4 linked regions of the Homo sapiens genome follow. The protein of the gene in region 1 interacts with the protein of each later gene in a pairwise test. Each region holds a gene or a part of one and is shown in the gene's direction. Other genes may lie near its edges.

The links.
Region 2: the proteins of TEKTL1 (region 1) and BRAP interact in a two-hybrid assay, tested with the Homo sapiens proteins (one study listed by BioGRID and IntAct).
Region 3: the proteins of TEKTL1 (region 1) and MESD interact in binary tests that used the Homo sapiens proteins (3 or more experiments, as listed by UniProt).
Region 4: the proteins of TEKTL1 (region 1) and MAGEA11 interact in binary tests that used the Homo sapiens proteins (3 or more experiments, as listed by UniProt).

Annotation. Positions count from the first base shown.
Region 1 is NC_000019.10:15,020,715-15,023,806, forward strand, and holds the end of TEKTL1 (tektin-like protein 1), read left to right. Parts: intron 1-638; coding exon 639-805; intron 806-901; coding exon 902-997; intron 998-1,091; coding exon 1,092-1,205; intron 1,206-2,156; coding exon 2,157-2,405; 3' UTR 2,406-2,562; downstream 2,563-3,092. UniProt on the Homo sapiens protein: Microtubule inner protein (MIP) part of the dynein-decorated doublet microtubules (DMTs) in sperm flagellar axoneme, which is required for motile flagellum beating.
Region 2 is NC_000012.12:111,682,916-111,690,395, reverse strand, and holds the start of BRAP (BRCA1-associated protein), read left to right. Parts: upstream 1-4,439; 5' UTR 4,440-4,603; coding exon 4,604-4,685; coding exon of another isoform or gene 4,686-4,808; intron 4,809-7,088; coding exon 7,089-7,250; intron 7,251-7,480. UniProt on the Homo sapiens protein: Negatively regulates MAP kinase activation by limiting the formation of Raf/MEK complexes probably by inactivation of the KSR1 scaffold protein.
Region 3 is NC_000015.10:80,975,231-80,979,839, reverse strand, and holds the end of MESD (LRP chaperone MESD precursor), read left to right. Parts: intron 1-362; coding exon 363-621; 3' UTR 622-4,088; downstream 4,089-4,609. UniProt on the Homo sapiens protein: Chaperone specifically assisting the folding of beta-propeller/EGF modules within the family of low-density lipoprotein receptors (LDLRs).
Region 4 is NC_000023.11:149,707,220-149,715,089, forward strand, and holds the start of MAGEA11 (melanoma-associated antigen 11), read left to right. Parts: upstream 1-4,840; 5' UTR 4,841-4,943; intron 4,944-5,923; 5' UTR 5,924-5,940; coding exon 5,941-6,036; intron 6,037-6,050; exon of another isoform or gene 6,051-6,807; coding exon of another isoform or gene 6,808-6,879; intron 6,880-7,261; coding exon 7,262-7,357; intron 7,358-7,870. UniProt on the Homo sapiens protein: Acts as androgen receptor coregulator that increases androgen receptor activity by modulating the receptors interdomain interaction. May play a role in embryonal development and tumor transformation or aspects of tumor progression.

The DNA of each region.
Region 1 (3,092 bases):
CAGTGCAGCCCGTCGCCCACTTAGCTGTCCCTTTCCTGGGAAATAGCCCTAGAGTCAATGGGAGGACTGAAAGCCTATCATGCTGAGCACACATTGTCACTCAGCTTTTCCCCCTGCACTCTCCTGCCCACACTCGCTGAGGACTCAGTCATTCACAGGCTCTGCTTTTTTTTTTTTTCCTTTGAGATGGAGTCTTGCTCTGTCACCCAGGCTGGAGTGCAATGGCCTGATCTCAGCTCACTGCAACCTCCGCCTCCCAGGTTCAAGTGATTCTCCTGCCTCGGCCTCCTGAGCAGCTGGGATTACAGGCGCCCACCACCACGCCCGGCTAATTTTTGTATTTTTAGTAGAGGCGGGTGTTTCACCATGTTGGCCAGGCTGGTCTCGAACTCCTGACCTCAGGTGATCCACCCGCCTCAGCCTCCCAAAGTGCTGGGATTACAGGTTACAGGCTCTGCTTCTAAGGAAACCAACCCAAGACGCTTCTTACACTATCCCCCGCGCCCCCTGGACTTTCACCCAGTTCCTCAATAAAACCCCCTCGCCCAGGGCCCACCACCACCTGAGAATAGAGAGAGGGACAGGGGCTCTGGGAACGGAGGACTTGGCACCCCCACGCGCATCCTGGGCATTTGCAGCGTGCGCCTTGGCGCTAAACGAAGCCAAGCGGTTGTTGGTCGAGTCCAAGGACACCTTGGTAGAAATGGCAAAGAACGAGGTGGACGTCCGGGAGCAACAGCTGCAGATAAGCGACCGTGTGTGTGCCTCGCTGGCGCAGAAGGCGAGCGAGACCTTGGAGCTGAAGGTGAGCGCATTACCTGCGGCTGCGGGCCAGGGTGGGACAGGGGAGGAGACGCGGACTGGGAGCCAGCGTGATCCCCCTGCGCTTCCCTGCCCCCAGGAAAGATTAAATATGACGTTAGGACTGATGAGGGGAACTATCCTCCGGTGTACGAAATATAACCAAGAGTTGTACACCACCCACGGTCTCATCAAGGTACGGTTCGGGGTGAGAGCCTTCGGGGGTGGAGGCAGGGGTGCCGGTGGCTGGAGGCTGGGTTTCAATGCGCTTGCACACCGCACCCCACCAGGGTCCTCTGTCGAAAGTTCACCTGGAGACCGCAGAAAAGCTGGACAGACCCCTGGTTCGCATGTACCAGAGACACGTGGGCACCCAACTCCCGGAGGCTGCGCGCCTCGCACAGGTAAACCCCCTCCCCCGTACCCCTCTAGGCCCAGCCCCGCCAATGGTAAGGCTCCTTCCTCAAGCACATCTGGACCAGGTATGATCCCCCTCTCACCCAAGTCGGCCTGTCCTTCAACTCCTGCCACGAAGTGGGGAGGCGGGGGCTTCACTGGGTACTGAAGTGGGTACTGGCGGGGGCTTCAGTGGGTACTGGCTCAAATAAGTCCCCTCAACCCCTGTCCTCCCCCCTCACACACACCCTCACTGTCCAGCTCTGGCCTTAGTCTCTCTAACCTGTAAAATGAGGAGCACGTCAGCACCCACTTCAAATGGTGGTGGTGAGGACAGATGAGTTCATGCATGAAAGGTGTGTAGCATGGCACCTGCATAGAATACCCTTAAAGCTGCCCAGCTGTTATTATTAACTATTATTGTTATTATTATTTGAGACAGACTCTCGCTCTGTCGCCCAGGCTGGAGTGCAGTGGTGCAATCTTGGCTCACTGCAACCTTCACCTCCCGGGTTCAAGCGATTCTCCTGCCTCAGCCTCCTGAGTAGCTGGGATTACAGGTGCGCGCCACCACACCCGGCTAATTTTTGTATTTTTAGTAGAGACAGAGTTCTGCTATGTTGGCCAGGCTAGTCTTGAACTCCTGACCTCAGGTGATCCGCCCGCCTCGGCCTCCCAAAGTGCTGGGATTACAGGTGTGAGCCACCGCGTCCGGCCCTGAGCTGTTATTATTAAGTACCCTTCCTAAGGAGGATCCTTCCTACACATCTTGACTAGATGCATTCCCCTCCCTCAGCCTGCCCTGTCGCGGTTTTTTTTTTTTCCAGGCACACCTGGCCCATTCAGATGTGTTCCCCTCCTCAGCTGTGTTCCTTACACACACACCTGGCGCAGGTGTGCCTTCCCACGCCAGGTAGCCATCTGCTCTGGCTCACGGGTCTGCCCTGCTCCCTATCCAGGGCACCGACAAGCTGCAGTGCCACATCACGTACCTGGAAAAGAACCTGGACGAGCTGCTCGCCACGCACAAGAACCTCAGCTGGGGCCTCAACTGCAAGAACATCGGGCATGAGGTGGACGGCAACGTGGTGCGCCTGCGCCTGCGCCAGCGGCAACCGCACGTGTGCTACGAGCAGGCGCAGCGCCTGGTTAAGGACTGGGACCCGCGCACGCCGCCGCCGCGCAGCAAGAGCAGCGCGGACCCCTAGTGACCCCAGCGTCCCCCGCCCCAGCCAGCTGATTGGATGCTGGCTGGGACCTCGGAGAGCAGACACAGCCCCATGGCCCTCCCTCTCCCCTGACGCACCCTCCCTCCAAGCACCCTCTAGGAGAATTATAATTAAAAATAACAATAATTATCATGTATTAGGCACCTACTGTATGTCAACCACTTACCCTAGGACACGTTATAAGCGCATATCCTGGTAGTTAATAGGATGGATTTGGGTGCCAGATGGCTGGGATTTAAATTCCAGCTTCCCAGTTTCAAGCTGTGTGGCCTTGGACAAGTCACTGTCCCTCTCTGGCCTTGGTCTCTCCAACCTGTAAAATGAGGAGCATGACAGCACCCACTTCAAATGGTGGTTGTAGGCGGGGCGCGGTGGCTCACGCCTGTAATCCCGGCACTTTGGGAGGCGGAAGCAGGCGGATCACCTGAGGTCAGGAGTTCGAGACCAGCCTGGCCAACATGATGAAACCCTGTCTCTACTAAAAATACAAAAATTAGCTGGGCCTGGTGGTGCGCACCTGTAATCCCAGCTACTAGGGAGGCTGAGACAGGAGAATCGCTTGAACCCAGGAGGCGGAGGTTGCAGTGAGCTGAGATCAAGCCACTGCACTCCAGCCTGGGTGACAAGAGCGAGACTCCGCCTCAAAAAAAAAAAATTGGTGGCTGT
Region 2 (7,480 bases), on another chromosome or scaffold:
AATTCCACACGTAAGTACTTAACACAAACTTTGTTTCATGCACAAAATTATTTAAAATATTGTATAAAATTACCATCAGGCTAGGTGTATAAGATATATATGAAACATATATATATAAGTGAATTTCATGTTTAGCCTTGGGTCCCAACCCCAAGATATCTCATTATATATACGCAGATATATCAAAATCCAAAATCTGAACTACTTCTGGTTCCAAACATTTGGGACAAGGGATACTCAACCTCTATAAGCACCTAGAGAAAGGACTCTTAAGTGGTAAATCTTGAATATAATGTGTTTCTCATCTATAGTCAGCCCTCTGTATTTGTGAGTTCCACATCTGCAGATTCAGCCAACTACAATAGAAAATATTCGAAGTAAGGCCGGGTGCAGTGGCTCACGCCTGTAATCCCAGCACTCTGGGAGGCCGAGGCGGGCGGATCACAAAGTCAGGAGATTGAGACCATCCTGGCTAACACGGTGAAACCCCATCTCTACTAAAAATACAAAAAATTAGCCGGGCGTGGTGGTGGGCACCTGTAGTCCCAGCTACTCAAGAGGCTGAGGCAGGAGAATGGTGTGAACTGGGGAGGCGGAGCTTGCAGTGAGCCGAGATGGTGCCACTGGACTCCAGCCTGGGCAACAGAGTGAGACTCCATCTCAAAAAAAAAAAAAGAAGAAAATATTTGAAGTAAAACAAAACAAAACAAACACACACAGTAAGGGCACAGTAACTGACGCCTGTAATCCCAGAACTTTGGGATGCTAATGTAGGCGGATCACCTGAGGTCGAGAGTTCGAGACCAACCTGGTCAACATTGTGAAGCCCCGTCTCTACTAAAAACACAGAAAAAAAATTAGCCAGGCGTGGTGGCGCACACCTGTAATCCCAGATACTCGGGAGGCTGGGACATGAGAATCACTTGAACCAGGGAAGTGGAGGTTGCAGTGAACCAAGATTGCACCACTGCACTCCACATTCCAGCCGGGGTTATAGAGTGAGACTCCATCTCAAAAACAAACAAAAACCAACAAAAATAACAACACAACAATAAAAAATGCAAACAAAAAATACAGGTTAACAACTATTTATTTACACAGTACTTACACTGTTTTAGGTATACATACATATATATGCATGTATATATATTTATATATTTTGATATGGATATGATTTGATATATATATTAAATATATATATTTTTTGATATGGAGTCTCCCTCTGTCACCAGGCTGGAATGCGGTGGCATGATCAGAGCTCACTGCAACCTCCACCTCCTGGGTTCAAGCGATTCTCCTGCCTCAGCCTCCCGAGTAGCTGGGATTACAGGTGCGTGCCACCACGCCTGGCTAATTTTTGTGTTTTTACTGGAGACAGGATTTCACCATGTTGGCCAGAATGGTCTCGATCTCTTGACCTCATTATCCACCCACCTTGGCCTCCCTAAGTGCTGGGATTACAGGCGTGAGCCATCGTGCCCAGCCAGTATTATAAGCAATCTAGGGATTACTTAACTCATATCTTGCTTGCCCTGAGAATACTGTGCTGGCAGCGAGCTGCACTTTTTTTGCTTTCTTTTTTTTGTTTTGTTTTGAGACGGAGTCTTGCTCTGTCGCCCAGGCTGGAGTGCAATGGTGTGATCTCGGCTCACTGCAACCGCCTCCCAGGTTCAAGCTATTCTCTTGCCTCAGCCTCCCGAGTAGCTGAGACTACAGGCGCTCGCCACCACATCCAGCTAATTTTTTGTATTTTTATAGTGGAGACGGGTGTTAACCATGTTGGCCAGGCTGGTCTCGAACTCCTGACCTCAAGTGATCCACCGGCCTCGGCCTCCCAAAGTGCTGGGATTGCAGGCGTGAGCCACCACACCAAGTCAAGTACTTTTTTTTTCTAAATGGGAAATGGGTTAAAGCATATAGGAGGGTGTACATAGGTTATAAACAAATGCTACACCATTGTATATCAGGAACTTGAGCATCCACAGATTTTGGCATCTGCAGGGGGTCCTGCACCCATCTGCTGAGGATACCACCATGCAACGACAGTAATTGGAAATTTGCTGAATTTGGGGGCAATATTTGAAACTAAAAATGTCAAGGTTCATTTGCATTTTCAGTTTTACTTAACGTTCCTATGCCAAGGCCAATGTTTATGATAGAAAGAGAAATTTACTTACACACTTGTATATTTTGTGTGAGGGCTTAGTAGAGACGAAAAATGCCTTTGGGGGGGCCGGGCGCGGTGGCTCACGCCTGTCATCCCAGCACTTTGGGAGGCCGAAGTGGGCGGATCACAAGGTCAGGAGTTCGAGACAAGTCTGACCAACATGGTGAAACCCTATCTCTAAAAAAAAATACAAAAATCAGCTGGGTGCAGTGCTGTGTGCCTGTAGTCCCAGCTACTTGGGAGACTGAGGCAGGAAGCTTGAACCCAGGAAGCCGAGGTTGCAGTGAGCCGAGATGGCACCACTGCACTCCAGCCTGGGCGACAGAGTGAGACTCCGTCTCAAAATACAAAAAAAAAAAAAGGTTTGTTTGGTAAAGAGATAAAGAATGTTCGTTCTGGATTCAGATTGCCTGAATTTCAGTTCCAGCTCTGCCACTACTACCTGTGAAATCCTGAGCCAGTTACTCTTCCTCCAAGCCTCAGGTTACTCCTCTGTAGAACAGGGACATAGTACCAGTTTCATAAAGTTGTTGTGACCATTGCATGACACAAGGTATATGAAACACTCAAATTAGTACCTGGCACATGTTGAAATGTTATCTACTATAGTAATATACTAAAAAAGTTCACAAGAGGTCTCATAGGTTTTATGCATACAGTATGTGTGTATGGTTTATGCACTTTCACATAACCCTGTGATTCTTCAACAGGGTTATGTTTTCTAACCCCAAGGAGACATCTGGAAAGGTCCAGAGACATTATTGGTTGTCACCACCTGGGGAGAGGTGCTACTGACATCTAGTGGGTCAGGCCAGGGATGTTTCTAAACACTCTACAATGCTCAGGACACCCCGCCCCCTTGCCAAAAACAAAAAAGAATAATCAGGACCCAAAATGTTAATAGTGCAGAGTTGAGAAACCCTGATTTAAACAGGGCATATGGAAACGTATTTCATAGGATGTAGTCACAAGATCTATATACGCATGTATCTTGTGGTCATGTCATAGTCCAGATACACACACATCTAGAACGCACTATGTCCACACACACACACATCTAGAATGTACTATGTACTTACATATGTATCATTATACAATGTACCTAGAGTAGCATCCTGTCATGTATGTGTCCCATATGCATTGATTGTGTCAGTATCTACATACAAAAGCCACTCTGACATACTGGAAAGAATGCTGAGCCTCAGAAAAGCTAATGTTATCTCCATATACATAATTCCATTTCATCCTCACAACTGCATGAGGACATGATATCATGCCAACTTTATGCAATGACTATACTAGTTCAAGACTGCACAACTGCTGATGTAGGTCAACCTCATAGTACGGACAGGAACTGTGTTTATCTTATACGCCAACGTATCTCAAGCATCCCAAGGGTGTCTAGACTCTCAGTAAACATTTGTGAAGTGACAGGGTGGGGAGGAGGACCCCGGTCTAACTGCAGCACTATGCTCGTAACCAGCAGATCACCATCTTTTCTCTCTTTTTTTTGAGACGGAGTTTCGCTCTTGTTGCCCAGGCGGGAGTGCACTAGCACTATCTCGACTCACTGCAACCTCCGCCTCCCGGGTTCAAGCGATTCTCCTGTCTCAGCCTCCCAAGTAGCTTGGACTACAGACGCGCGCCACCAAGCCCGGCTAATTTTTTGTATGTTCAGTAGAGACGAGGTTTCACCATGTTGGCCAGGTTGGTCTCGAACTGCTGACCTGAGGTGATTCGCCCGCCTAAGCCTCTGGGCTGGGATTACAGGCGTGAGCCACCGCGCCCAGCCAGATCGCTATCTGAACAGCGATCGACTCTCCACTCTCTACGGCCCCTTAGAAGGAACTTCACCTCTCTGAGCCTCGTTGTACCTATCTGTAAAGTGGGACAGAAACAAAACCATCCAGACTAGGGTTAGAGACAGGAGTCAAACACAACAAAAGGGGCAAAGTTCTGCATAGCAGATAGCTCGGACAATTCGGAGACCTCGCGGAGCCAGGGATCCCGCGCCGTCAGCCGAGGTGGATTAGGACGAGGCCTCTGGAGCAAGCAGAGGTTAACTCGCGACTGTGCGAAAACCTGCAGCTCAGCCTAAGTGTGGCACCCCAGCGCAAGCAATCTCCACGACGTCCTTCCGCTCCGACCTCCTCAAAATTGCGTCCGGAAGAGCAGTGGGTGACCCCTGCCACGCCGCCCAATCGCTGTGCGCGGTCCTGCGCGCATGCGTAAACCGCAGGTCAGCGACGGCGGCCGGGAGGCGGAAGTGGAGGTTGTTGTGGCTCCGAGGGCTGTTCGAGGAGCTGCTGCTGCTGAGGCGGCGGCAACTGCATTGAGGTGGTGGCGGCGCTGCCGGCCCCGGGCCGCTCGGCCTCTCGGCTCGCCTTCCAGCCTCGCCTGAGCCCGCCGGGGCCCGCGCCGGCCAGCGCCTGCCCTATGAGTGTGTCACTGGTTGTTATCCGATTGGAGCTCGCGGAACACTCGCCTGTCCCCGCCGGCTTCGGCTTCAGCGCCGCGGGTGAGTCCCGCGGCCTCGCCGCATTCCCTGTAGCCGGGTCTGGGCCCGGAGGGCTTCCCTTCCCAAAGCACTGGCCCGGGAAAAGCCCGCGGCGAGGGCTGTTGCCCAGGAAGACACGGAGAGGTAATCGGGATCCCTCTCTTTCCCATCCGCCTTTGAGAGGCCTTCCCGTTTGTTATCTCAGGGAAGCCCTGCCCCGAACCTCCCTCCCTGTGCCGTCTGAGGGCATTTAGTTTATACCTGGCGCGTCTCCCTCTCGAGATAGTCGAGTGGTGTGTTTGTCTCACTTGCTTCCCTATGGGCTTCGTAAAGGCAGGGACTGGGTCCCCAGCAACGCTGGACGGTCCCTGGGTTAATTAAATTGTTCCCTTTTGGAACGATATCCATTGAAGTGCCCCCTAACCATAGTCATAACTAAAATTTGGACACTTCCTATATCCCAGCACTGTACTAAGCACCTTTTGTGTATTGTATTCTTTAATTATCTTTGCAACAGCCCTAAGAGGCAGATGGATGTGACATGTACCTCTTACACATTGGGAAACTGAAGCTTAGTGATTAATTGATTTGCCCAAGGTTATCTGTAATGGGTGAAACTGGGATTCTAACTCAGTGAGCTGGACTTGAGTCTGAGCTTTTTACACCATTAACACAAGTGAGGAAGCTCCTTAGTGGGGAATGCAGCTCTGGCTCTGTTCCTTGGTCCTCAGATAATTAACTAACATTCATTCAAGAAATACTTGGCCGGGCGCGGTGGCTCACGCCTGTAATCCTCACACTTTGGGAGGCCGAGGCGGGCGGGTCACCTGAGGTTGAGAGTTCAAGACCAGCCTGGCCAACATGGTGAAACCCTGTCTGTACTAAAAATACAAAAATTAGCTGGGCGTGGTGACAGGTGCCTGTAATCCCAGCTACTGGGGAGGCTGAGGCAGGAGAATCGCTTGAACCCGGGAGGTGGAGGTTGCGGTGAGCCAAGATTGTGGCACTGCACTCCAGCCTGGGCGACAAGAGATAAAGTCCATTTCAAAAAAAAAAACAAAAAAAAAACTTATGCTCATATCTGCTGGAGCCTTCCTTGTGTGCTGAATCAGACAGCGTCTCTGTTTTAATGGCACCAGCAGTATCATGGAGGAAACAGATGAATTAAATAAGTGCAGAATATGTGTAGAATTACAACTGTGGTAAGTGCTGTGAAGGAAAGGAGAAACAATTTGGGAAAGTATTACAAGAAGATGTGTTTGGTTTGGAGAGAGGGATGGGGGCAGGTAGGGATGGTGTCATTGGGAACTTCCTGAGGACGTGACCTTTGAAGCTGCAAATTAAAGATTGAATATGACTTTATAGCTTATGAGCACCTTTCCAAAGGCTAAAAGTGGCTTCTGAGTTCTGAGAGTCAGCTAAATTGATATTAGCCGCATATAGACATCTGCATGGGTCAGTCATGTAGTCATTTATTCATCAAACATTTAGAGGGCTTCCTCTGTGTGCTCGGCACTGTGGTATAAGGGCTGGGAATACAGTGGTGGGCAAAACAGGCCTTGTCCCTGCCCTGACAGAGCATGTATTAGGGATATTTCAGTTAAGTCTCCAAATTCCGTTTCCCTTTTCATGTGTTTCATTGATTTAAGACAGTAATCACAGATGTTCATGGCTTGGTTCATGGCATGAGCATAAGCCAGGATGTTTAAGACTACCCCTACAAGTTTTTGAAATTTTGTTTTTTTAATGGACTTGATAGCTTCATTTTGGGCTGAACACAATTTCATTTTATCAGGTGTTACTAAAATGTTAGCTCATCTGGGCATGATCACTGTTGCATCTTCTCTAAGGCTCCCTCTTTGGCGATTTGCTTTAAAGTGCATGATTTTGGGCCAGGCGCAGTGGCTCAAACCTGTAATTCCAGCGCTTTGGGAGGTCAAGGCGGGTGGATCACTTTGAGGCCAGGAGTTCGAGACCAGCCTGTCCAACATGGTGAAGCCCCATCTCTACTGAAAGTACAAAAATTAGCTGGGCGTGGTGGCACGTGCCTGTAATCCCAGCTACTCGGGAGGCTGGGGCAGGAGAATCACTTGAACCTGGGAGGTGGAGGTTGCAGTGAGCCAAGATCACACCACTGCACTCCAGCCTGGGTGACAGAGTGAGACTCTGTCTCAAAAAATAAAAATAAAGTGCATGATTTCAGTAGAACAGCCCTGCATTTCTGAGTATATTGTCCTGGCTGCTTATTGACTCTTTGCTGTGTACTGCAGTGGTCCCAGAGTTGAGTGAGATGGATACTACAAAGGCTTCTTATCATCTTGGCGGAAGGCAGGAGAAAGAAAAGGAAAACCTAATGATAGAGGAATAGAGAACAGAGAGGAGCTTGTTTTATTACCTTGTATTAATCATTCATGTGTTCTTTAGCCGGGGAAATGTCTGATGAGGAGATAAAAAAGACGACACTAGCCTCAGCTGTAGCCTGTTTAGAAGGCAAGTCACCAGGAGAGAAAGTAGCGATTATCCATCAGCATCTCGGCCGTCGAGAAATGACAGATGTGATCATTGAGACCATGAAGTCCAACCCAGGTATGCTTTCTAAAACCCTGGACTCTCTTTTGTAATGTGAACACTGGTTGCCTATTTTATACACGGTGTTTGATGAGCCTACAATTTCAACATCTAGCATACTTTTGTCTTTCACTACGTGTGTGCTTTATATGACACTGTTAAGCCACATGTTAGTGTTTCCAAATATTTCTTCCAAATTAATCCTAACAGTTGGAGTTGACAATTCAGTTCAGTGACGGGGGGGACTT
Region 3 (4,609 bases), on another chromosome or scaffold:
AAAACAGATACAGATCAGATCGAAGCTGCCTCTTTACCTCCCCAGCAGCAGCCCCTGAGCCACCTCTGCAGTGTCCTAGGGAGGTTTTCCAAATGTTCACTTTTAACACGGGCATCCATTTATACAACAAAGGAACATCCAGTGTCTGTTTCTATTTTGATCTGAGCTGGATGTTTAATAGTTCAGCAAGCTAGTATTTTAATACATGAGATATCAGTAGCTGCTAGGCTTTGGAAAATCCAATTTTTCATTCCATATTCATGTAGAATTTGAAATAAACTGATAAGTGCCAGAGAATTGCTCTGACCCCTTAGCACCTTACTAGTACGTGCTGGCTGACTGATTGCATCTCTCTGCCCAAGGTTCATTGTGGGATCAGACCGTGCTATCTTCATGCTTCGCGATGGGAGCTACGCCTGGGAGATCAAGGACTTTTTGGTCGGTCAAGACAGGTGTGCTGATGTAACTCTGGAGGGCCAGGTGTACCCCGGCAAAGGAGGAGGAAGCAAAGAGAAAAATAAAACAAAGCAAGACAAGGGCAAAAAAAAGAAGGAAGGAGATCTGAAATCTCGGTCTTCCAAGGAAGAAAATCGAGCTGGGAATAAAAGAGAAGACCTGTGATGGGGCAGCAGTGACGCGCTGTGGGGGGACAGGTGGACGTGGAGAGCTCTTTGCCCAGCTCCTGGGGTGGGAGTGGTCTCAGGCAACTGCACACCGGATGACATTCTAGTGTCTTCTAGAAAGGGTCTGCCACATGACCAGTTTGTGGTCAAAGAATTACTGCTTAATAGGCTTCAAGTAAGAAGACAGATGTTTTCTAATTAATACTGGACACTGACAAATTCATGTTTACTATAAAATCTCCTTACATGGAAATGTGACTGTGTTGCTTTTTCCCATTTACACTTGGTGAGTCATCAACTCTACTGAGATTCCACTCCCCTCCAAGCACCTGCTGTGATTGGGTGGCCTGCTCTGATCAGATAGCAAATTCTGATCAGAGAAGACTTTAAAACTCTTGACTTAATTGAGTAAACTCTTCATGCCATATACATCATTTTCATTATGTTAAAGGTAAAATATGCTTTGTGAACTCAGATGTCTGTAGCCAGGAAGCCAGGGTGTGTAAATCCAAAATCTATGCAGGAAATGCGGAGAATAGAAAATATGTCACTTGAAATCCTAAGTAGTTTTGAATTTCTTTGACTTGAATCTTACTCATCAGTAAGAGAACTCTTGGTGTCTGTCAGGTTTTATGTGGTCTGTAAAGTTAGGGGTTCTGTTTTGTTTCCTTATTTAGGAAAGAGTACTGCTGGTGTCGAGGGGTTATATGTTCCATTTAATGTGACAGTTTTAAAGGATTTAAGTAGGGAATCAGAGTCCTTTGCAGAGTGTGACAGACGACTCAATAACCTCATTTGTTTCTAAACATTTTTCTTTGATAAAGTGCCTAAATCTGTGCTTTCGTATAGAGTAACATGATGTGCTACTGTTGATGTCTGATTTTGCCGTTCATGTTAGAGCCTACTGTGAATAAGAGTTAGAACATTTATATACAGATGTCATTTCTAAGAACTAAAATTCTTTGGGAAAAACCCTCAATTGTGATTTTAATAAATTAAAAGTAGCACATTACATGGTTAGAAAATGTCAGTGTTAAAGAATGGTACAAAGTGAAAAGTGTATCCCTCTCTTGCCGCCGGTGGTAGCTTGTCCCAGTGGAAGCTGCTGTTAACAATTTGTGCCCCCACATCCCCCTCCCTGCCCATCCACCAAAAAAAAGTACATTTACTTATGTAAATGTACTTATGGTGATGTATGTTTGTTTTGGCCTCACAGCATCTGTTTCCCCTTAATTTGGTAGCTGCTCACATTTCCCTCGAAAGAACCACACCCTCTGCATTCTCAGTTCTCTGCTTTGGATGGGACATTTGCCCTGCAGTCCCCCCACCCTCCAGGCCATGCCCTCTCCAGGGTGAGGCCTGTGTGATCTACCGTACTAGGGTACTAGGCCCTGAAAGAGGCTTTTCTTGTTCCTCCTGCATCTTGAACCTGGAGCGGGAGCTGTTGTAGGCCCCGCCCTTGGAGAAGAGAACTGTCTGACAGTGGGGAGAGAGCGCCACACCCTGGTGGCATAAACGAGTCCCTGAATCATGCCGTGGCTGAACCAAGCCCTGTCTGTGGGCTTTTTCTGTTGTACTCAGGGCAGTTTGATGGGGTTACTGTCCTGCATAGCCATAATGGCCCAGTATAAAGCAGCTGTTTTGATGAGATAATTGCTTTAATTAAGCAAAAGGTAGCAAAGCTTTCACTCCGCCCTGTACCTTCTGTTTCCACTTAGGAGCCTTCCCATGTCAGAATGTGCAGATCTGTCTCATTGTTTCCTGTGCAGTGTGCCCCCACTTCACCCAGTAGTTTCTGTGTGTCTGTTATGTACTAGGTACTACAAGGTGCCAGGACGGTGTAGATACAGCCTCTGCTATCGTAAAACTCAATGATTCGGTGGGGGAAGACAAATGTCAGTAATGTACAAAGTAAAATGGCAGCTGTTAGAAGTATGAAAGGGGCAGGGTAGGGGGAGGTAGAATCTTCCCTGACCAGGTTAAGAAAACCAGAGGCCTTCTCTGAGGGCAAGAGGAGGAGAGGAGAAATAGAGTAAGGCAGGCAGAGGAAACAGTCTGAGCTAAGACCCTGTGGCTAGAAGTGGCAGAGGGAGAGGCAGCAGGAAGGCCAGCGGGGAGGCTGGGGCCCAGTGCAGGCCCAGGTTGGAGGAGCGTAGCACATGGAGTTTGGTAGGAGTTTGGGACGCCCTGGTGGATCTTAATTGTGATGGGGTGGGTGTGAAAGGCAGTCCAGGTTGCACTGGTTGCACAGGAGAAGTGATCAGAAGAGGACCCCAGCAGGTGTGAGCCGTGAGCTGGGAGGTGCTTCAGTAGTGCAGGCCATAGCTGAAGGTGTCCTACATCAGCAGGGTGATGGTGAGGTTTGAACCACTGTTTCACTGCATAGTCCCTGCTGATGGACACTTGAGTGTTCAGATTTTTTGCTGGTATATTCAGTGCTGCAGTGGACATTTTCATACAAAATATTTCGGTACACTTTTGTTTATATCTGAAAGGTAAATTCCTAGCAGTAGAATTATTAGAGCAAACGGAATTTAACATTTTGGTGTGTATTGCCAAATTGCCCTCCCAAGTGGTTTAGTCAGCTTACCCTTGCCAACAATAGATCTATCCTTGCCAGCCTTGGGCATCACATTTACCAGTTTAATAGATTGTAAAACCATATCTTAATTGGCTACCCTGAAGCCACCATACTGGAGAGGCTGCGTACAGTGTTTCACGTAGAGAGAGGGATACCCAGGAGGCCCACCTGCTCCAACCCCAGCTGCATGAGTCTTCCCAGCCCAGGCACAGACATGTGGATAAGATTTAAACATTTCCAGCCCCAGCCTTCAAGCAATCCTAGTTGACACTGAGGGGAGCCAACATAAGCTGAGCTGAGAAACAGTCTGCCCAGTCTGCAGATTCATGAGCAAAAGAAATGTTGGGCTGGGTACAGTGGCTCACGCCTGTAATCCCAGTACTTTGGGAGGCCGAGGTGGGTGGATCAGTTGAGGTCAGGAGTTTGAGACCAGCCTGGCCAACATGGTGAAGCCCTGTCTCTACTAAAAATTAGCCGAGTGTGGTGGTGCGGGCCTGTAATCCCAGCTACTCAGGTGGCTGAGGCAGGAGAATGGCTTGAACCCGGGAGGCGGAGGTTGCAGTGAGCCAAGATCAGGCCACTGCACTCCAGCCTGGATGACGGGATGAGACTCTGTCTCAAAAAAACGAAACAAAAATTTTTTAAGAGAAATGTCATTTGTTTTTGTTTTTGAGACAGGGTCTCACTCTGTTGCCCTCACTAGAGTGCAGTAGGATCACGGCTCACTGAAGTCTCTACCTACCGGCTCAATTGATCTTCCCACCACAGCCTCCCAAATAGCTGGGAGAAATGTCCTGTTTTTAATGAATTTGTCTTCCTTTTTGTCTTGTTTGTTTTAATATCTAGTGATCTAATAAATTTGGATGATATCTTTTGACTATCAATTATGAAACCTGTATCAGATATACACATCTTTCCTTCTTCATCCTCAGGCTTTCTGGTTTTGATGGTGATACTGTGGCTTTTGTACTTCTGGTGGTTTCCCTTATACTGTTAAACCTCTTTTTTTTTTTTAAATTAAACCAACTTAGTATGCATTAACCACTGAACAAGGGAAAGGAACTCACAAACTTTTTCCTGTGTCCCTGATTATTGTTTAATAGTGTTTGTATACTGACAAGATACATAATATCCACCTTCTGCACCCACAGTGTCCGCCTTTATGCTTGGACAAGAGCATGCAGGGTAGGACATTTCTGAGCCTTGCTTTTTTCCCTGGAAGTTTTTTGTTTGTTTGTTTGTTTTTTAAGAGACAGGGTCTCTTGCTGTCTCACTCAGGCTAGAGTGCAGTGGTGTGTTCATAGCTCACTGCAGCCTCAAACTCCTGAGTTCAAGCCATCCTCTTGCCTCAGCCTCCCGAGTAGCTAGGACTACAAGCATGCACCACTATGCCTGGCTAGGTTTT
Region 4 (7,870 bases), on another chromosome or scaffold:
TTCCATAAATGAATACTGAGCATGTATTGTGTGCCAGGCACTGTCCTGGGCTCTGAGGATACAATATTGAACACATTTCCTCCCTAGGTGGAACTTACATTCTAGTGAGGTAAAGGGTAGGCACACAATAAATCATGAAACAAACTTAAAGGTGCAGTAGATTTAATGGTTAACTTCCAAATCACCTTTGGTAGGCTTCCAAATGAACTCACCTGGGGGAGGTCTTGTGATTTCTGTTGCCATCCTGTCCCTCAGTAAAGTGTCTTATCCTGCATTCCACAAATTGTTTACATATGGATTAATATGTAATGTACCAACATTGAAAAGTTTGCTGATTTATTTTTAAATCATGAAATTTTACTGGTTGTTTTGCACATGGACATTTTAGTCTGTATGTTGCAATTTGGTACAATGATTCTAACCTCCGTATTGTATCCTCTAATAAAAAACGACAACTGCCATATAAAAAGTTCTCTCTTGTTCTAAACTCTCATAAAACCCTTCCAACTTGTAAGACTCTCCAGAACACTCCCAACTTTGTTGGTTTCTCCTCCCAGGTCAGTCCTCACATTTGGCTTCCAATAAACATTTATCCTCTTATTTTTGCCTAACCAGTCTTAATTTTGGTTGACATGGTGATAAATACTATGGAAACAAATTGAATCTAGAGAACTGAATAAGTGTTTGGGATGAGTTAAGAGGGAGGATTGCAATTTTAGAAAGGGTATTCACTTTTTAATGAGGTTATTTGTTTTTGTTTGTTCAATTGTTTAAGCACCTTATAGATTCTGAATATTAGACCTTTGTCAGATGCGTAGTTGGGGAATATTTTCTTCCATTCTGCAGGTTGTCTGCTTACTCTGTGGATAGTTTCTTTTGCTGAGCAGAAGCTTTTGAGTTTAATTAGGTTAACTTGTCAATTTTTGTTTTAGTTGCAATAGCTTTTGAGAACATAGTCATAAATTATTTCCCGAGGGTGATATCCAGAATGGTGTTTCCTAGGTTTTCTTCTAGGATTCTTGTAGTTTGAGGTCTTACATTTCAATCTTTAATCCATGTCGAATTAATTTTTGTATATGATGAAAGGTCAGGATCCAACTATTGGGTACTATGCTCACTACTTGAGTGACGGGATCAATAATATCACAAATCTCAGCATCTCACAATATACCCATGTAACAAAGTTGCACACGTACCCCCTGAATCTAAAATGAAAGTGAAATTACAAAAATAAATAATAAAGACACAAATTCTATGAAGAAAAAGAAAGGTTATTCATAGAAGGCCTCACAGAGAAGATATTTGGAGAGAGACCCAAGGGTGTCTGGAAAGCAGTATTAGCTAGCAGTATTATAGGAGCATGTGTCTAGAAGAGAACAAAGGCGTGCAGTACCTCAGGACCCTGGAACAGAGAGTAGGAGGTAGGGGTCTAGGGAGGCTGGTCTATTGAAGCCAGACCCTTTTCTCTGAGCCATAGGCTGTCTCAGAGCCAGGTCAGCTGCACTGTACCATGAACTGGCTTATTGGATCCAGTATTCTATCCAAGGTTACTGAGTTGGTTTACATTATTCCAGCATTTGAGACGTGGGGTAGGTAGAAGTATAGTTGGAAACAGATTAGTAATGGATTGAAGATTTTTGATGCTGAATATCAAGTATATTGGGTATATTATACTATACTATTTTACATGTCTGACACTTTAATAAAGTTATTTCATCATAATATCATGCCATTAAATTTGAAATCCTAAGTGAAATGAACTATATTTTATAAAAAAAAAAAAATGGCCCGGCGCAGTGGCTCACGCCTGCAATCCCAGCACTTTGGAAGGCCGAGACAGGTGGATCACGAGGTCAGGAGTTCGAGACCCGTCTGGACAATATGGTGAAACCCCGTCTCTACTAAAAATACAAAAATTAGCCGGGTGTGGTAGCGCACACCTGAAATCCTAGCTACTCAGGAGGCTGAGGCAGGAGAATTGCTTGAACCTGGGAGGAGGAGGTTGCAGTGAGCTGAGATTGTGCCATTGCACTCCAGCCTGGGCGACTGAGCGAGACTCTGTCTCGAAAAAAAAAAAAAAAGATCAAATTGGTCCATAAAGAAACAGAAAACTTTAATCAAACATTACAAACTAAAACTGTATTCTCAGTTCAAGCCACCCACAAATGATCCAGGAAAAGAAAGTTTCAGAGGCCAGTTTTACCAAATAATTAGAACTCATTGCCATCCTAAGCAAACTCTTAAAAACCATACAAAAAGATGGGCAACTGTGGAACTCATTTTCTGAGACTAGTGTTCTTTGTTTCAAATACCAGAAGAGGACCTCACCATGAAAAGAACACTTAAACCAAAGTTACTCACATAGCAACAAATATCCTAAATAAATTAATAGCCAATTCATTAGGGCAGTGTACTAAATGGAAAAACGGGATATATCCAAAGAATGAAAATACAATTTGACATTAAAATATACCTTCAGTGTGATTCCCTATATTAACAAGATTATAGAGGCAAAACATATGATCATATTAATGGATACAGAAAAATATTTTGAAAAAATTAGTAATCATCCATGATAAAAATAACTAGAAAATTAAGAGTAGAAGGAAATTTTGTTTCATCAAATTGATAGCAAATATACTTAATTGTAAAATGTTGGACGCATTCATGTCAGGCACAGGTCATAAATGTATGCTATCATTGCTATTTTTCAAAGTTGTATTGGAATACAAAGCCACAGATATGGATACCAAAATAAATAAGAGGTATGTGTATTGGAAAGAAAGAGTGATATTTGGTAGGGTAATGCAACAGTCTATCTAGAAAATTCAAAAAAATGCACACTTGAAATAGTCAAATGAATAAGAGACGTGTGAAAAATAGCGAACAGAAGATCAATAAAGCAAAATCAAAAGATTTGCAAAACAGACAATAACTATTAAGAACAGGTCATAGAAAATACCCCATTCACAATAGCAACAATATCCAAAAATTACCTAACAAGAAGACTAACAAAAGCATGTATGATTTTTACTGAGGCAACTATACAAGTACTGATATATCCAGTTCAAAGAGCACCCAAATAAACAAGGCAGTATATGATATCATTGATAGGGAACAGAATATTGCAAAGATGGCAATTCTATTTTTTCAAAAATTGACAGACGTAATTCCTTAACCAGCCAAGATGACTGTCAAGCTCAGGCATCTGTTGGTTTTTGATTGTTTGGTTTGGTTTTGTTTTTTTGAGACAGGACCTCACTCTATTTCCAAGGCTGGAGTGCAGTGGTGTGAACACAGCTCACTGCAGCACTGACATCCTGGGCTCCAGTGATCCTCCCACCTTAGCCTCCCTACCAGCTGGGACTGCAGTCACACGCCACCACACCCAGCTAATTTTTCATTTCTTTTTTCTTTTTCTTTTTCTTTCTTTCTTTTTTTTTTGAGATGGGGTCTTGTTATGTAGTTCAGATTAATCTTGAGCTACTGGGCTCAAGTGATCCTCCTGCCTTGGCCTACCAAAGTGTTTGGATTACAGGTGTGAACCACCGCGTTCAGTCTTGGGCTTCTATCTTAGACTCCCCAAAACAACCCGGGAAAACTAAAGAATAAAAATAAATAAATAAAGGAACAAGCAAACAATATCAAAAAAGAAATCTAAACAAAAAAAACATGAGAGAGCCCTGAGAATTTCATTGTATTTTGAAGGAATACTTGTGATTGGCGGGGAAGAGTGGCAGGGAAGTTGGGGTGGATAGGAAGAAAGAAATGTTTAAAATTCTGCCCCTACTTCACTGTGGAAAACTCGGGTAGGGTCTCAGACCACAGGTGCCAGTAGTCATGGGGTAACTTCAGGACATGAGGAAACACTGGTTGATTAAAGGAATACGGCTGGAATTTGTGCTGATAACCACTAAAACCACGTCAGTAAATAAAGATTGGCTTTTTAAAAATTATCGTTTTAATTGAAGATAAAGAATGGATTAAATTAGAGTATTGACCATTAGAGTGAAATAGGCAGTTAGGTTAAGTATGATTTTTGACACTGAATGAGAATTAAAAAATGAAAATCACTAAAATGAACTATGAAGTGTTAGATAAATTCTAAACGCAGGACTTCCGCAAATTTCTTGCAGCCACTCAGCCTCTTCAGTGTAAAAATAAAGCTTTCAGGGCAAAAGTTTGCAAAGTCTAGATCTGGCTGGGGAGGAGCCCCCGTAGGAAGGTGTGCATCTTCTCCCAGAGGTCACTACAATCACGGGTACTGAAGCCACATGGAAGCACCTAGCCTGGGATCCGCAGCTATTGTCTGCAAGGGGTGCAGTTGGGCAATGCTCAGAGGTGACAGAAACAGAGCATCTCCCACCCATCACTTCATGAAAGAACCAGTAGCCAAGAGGAGGACCCTCCTGAGTGAGGACTGACGGTCCACCCTCCCCACATAGAGGGGCCACAGAATCCAGCTCGGTCCCTCCTGTCAGCCCCGGAAGACCTTGGCAATGTTGTCCCCCGACCTCACACCTCCCGCTCACTGCCACCTCAGGGGACTCAGAGTCAGAGACTTGGTCCGAGAGGAGCAGACATCATTGGCAGAGGACGGAGCTCCAGGCTCTGCAAGGAATCAAGGTCAGAAACCTGAGGGAGGACTGAGGCACCCCCATGACCCTCGACCACATCTGCACCCCTCGCCACTACTTTTCCCCCTGCCCCACCCCGCCCCGCCCCGCCTCGCCTCGCCCCGCCCCGCCTCGCCTCGCCCCGCCCCCACACGGGCAGAATCGGGTTCGCTCCTGCTGTAAATCCAGGGAAGCTCCAGGCGTGGGGGCCGGATGTGACCTCCATTGGCTTCCGCCTCTGGGATCTGAGAGAAGCGAAAGCGTCTTTCTGAGGGGTGTCTTGAGAGTGGCAGAGGGCAGCGGGTCCAGGCTCCATGAGGAGGCAAGGTGAGAGCTGAGGGAGGACTGAGGAGTCCTCCTACCCAGATAGAGGGCCCCAAATAATCCAGCGCCAACCCTGGAGCCAGCCCTGAAACAACAGGGGACCAAATTATCAGGCTGAGACAATCCCCCTCCTCAATGCCCAAGGAGACTCTGCGAGTCTATGGTGTGACCCGGGCAGAGGCAGTTCCATAAAGGGTGGGGCCCCGGCCTTTCCAGGCATCAACATCAGGACTCTGAGAAATTATGGAGAGGTTCCACCCCATCCTGATAGAGGGGCCACAAAGTCCATCCTTGTCCCTGCAGACAACGCAAAGGACCTCCGGGCTTGGTACTGCGGAGTTGCACATTAGGGGGTCAGAGAGAAGTGATAGCCCGGTTCTGAAGGGCGGCTTGTGACCTGCTGAGGGCAGCGGGCCCAGGCTCTGTGAGGAGGCAAGATGAGATGCTGAGGGAGGACTGAGGATGCTCCCTACCCAGATAGAGGACCCCAGATAATCCAGCACCGCCTCTGCTGCCAGCCCTGGATCACCCCATGGGGATGGACTTCTCAGGCTGGGCCGTCCCCTCTGACACCCCCCTCGGCTTCTGCCCCCCGCCGCTTAAGCCTCAGGGGACTGTGGGGTCAGAGCTTGGTGTGACCAGGGCAGGGCTGGTTGGGGGGGGCAGGACCCAGGTTCTGCCAGGCATCAAGGTCAGGACCCCGAGGGAGGGCTGAGGCCCCACAGAGCAAGGCTCCCTCTCTGCTGTCAGTCCTGGGAAGTTCCTGGCATTGCTGCCAGGCAAGTGGATCCTGATTTCCGCATCCTGGGCTGACAGAGGGAAGGGGCTTGGTATCATGAGAAAGACCTAGGGGGAGCACAGACAGGGCTCAGTCCCTGCTGGGAGGTGAGCAAGGCCTGAGGGACAACTGAAGGGACCCAGCACCCCAGAACAGCCCCCCCCCATAGTCCCGCCGTCTCAAACTGAGGTGCCTTTTCATTCAGCCTTGGGAATCTGAGGGATGGAGACTCAGTTCCGCAGAGGGGGTCTGGGGTGCAGCCCTGCCAGCATCAAGAGGAAGAAGAAGAGGGAGGACTCAGGAGACTTTGGACTCCAGGTCAGTAGGGACCTTGGCCCTTGGAGTTCCAAGGCACGGTGGCCACATGTGGTGCATCCTCACTCTGCCTTTGGGGTGTCAGCAAGGAGTGGGTTGTGGTCTGAGGAGTGGAGCCTCAGGTCAACCCAGGGAGGAGTCCCAGAGGGAGGACTCAGGCAACCAATTATCCCTGAGGTAGAAAACCTGCCCCTGCCATCGGTCCTTGGAGGCCCCAAGCAGGACTCTAGGAAAGAGAGGCAGCTCCCCACTTCCTAGTTGGGGTTCTCTGGGAGATGGTGGTCGTGGCCTGCAAAACTCATCCACAGTTCAGCAGGAGAGACATGGATAGGCCTTGTCAGGAGTAAATCTGAATACCTGGAGGAAACCCAGAGAGAGGAGGCACCCCTGAAATCTGCTTCATCTGTCAGCCTTTGGCATCCCATGAGGGGTGTCCATGTAGTGCCCCTTCACTTTCTGCCTCCCATATCTCAGAGAGGTGGGGCCCTTGGTCTGAGGCAGGTCCTCAGGTCAGCAGAGGGATACACACCTGGTCAGCACAGGGTGGAGTCCAGGATCTGCCAGTAGTCAAGGAGAGGAAAATTGATGAAGACTGAAGGTAAGAATGTACCCTCCCACATGCCAAAGAAAAAGGGACCTCACCAATCCTTGCTTCCTCTGTTTTCATCCCTCGGAGGCCCAAGTTGGGGAGGCATGTGCCATGCTCACATTTCTGCCACGAGGTTGGGGGTGGCACCTTGCTCAGGGAGGTGAGCACCTTGTTTCAAGGGGGTGATGACAGGTCAGCAGGTGGAGCCACACCTGATCAGCAGAGGGAGGAGTCCCAGGATCTTTAGGACTCAAGGTGTATGTGTCCCCTTGGTGAGGACTGGAGATACCCACATCCCATAATGAAGGGATCCCACAGAGTCTCTCTGTCCCCTGTCCTTGGCTGTGTGGGGACCTCATCACGGGTGGCCCCAAGTGGCAAGGTCACTTGTACCACAGGCAGAAAGTTGGGAAACCTTCAGGGAGATGAGGTCTTGGTGTAAAGGGATATGTCTGCTCATCTCAGGGGTTGGGAGTCAAGGAAGGACAGGCCCTGGCAGAAGTAAAGATGAAAAACCCACAGGAGGACTTTGGAATCCCCAGAACCGAAGGGTCCAGCCTCTGCTGTCAGCCCTGGACAACCACATGATGGGGTGATGGGACGTGGGGCCCCTTACTTCTGTTTTGGAATCTTGGGCAGGTGAGCACTATGTTCTCAGAGGACGACTTCCAGTCAACAGAAAGAGCCCCATATGGTCCACAACTACAGTGGTCCCAGGATCTGCCAAGAGTCCAGGTGAGAAACCTGAGGGAGGATTGAGGGTTCCTCCTGGCCAGAACACAGAGGGCTGCTTAGAAATCTGCTCTGCCCCTGCTGTCTCCCCAGAGAGCATGTGCAGGACTATGTGCTGAGACCCCTCTCTTATACTGGGATCATTGGTCTCAGGGAGCGGGAGACATTGGTCTGAGAGGGCTGCACTTAGGTCAGCAGTGGGAGGGTCCCAGGCCATGACCAGAATCAAGGTGGGGGCTGACGGGACAGCACTTACCAAAAACATGGGACTCAGCCCTTCCCTGCCCCTTCTGTCAGCTATGGGAAGTCCCTGGGACCATGGGTGTTTCTATTTCCCTGATTTCCTCTTCTGATATCTCCTGGAGGTAGAGCTTTGGTTTAAGGAGATGGCGTCAGGTCAACAGAGGGAGGGTCCCAGGCCAAGATAGGCATCAAGATGGGAACCAAACAGGCTCCTTACCCGAGGACACATGGACCCTGCTGACTGTCACCATCTCTTGCTGTCCTTCCTGGGTA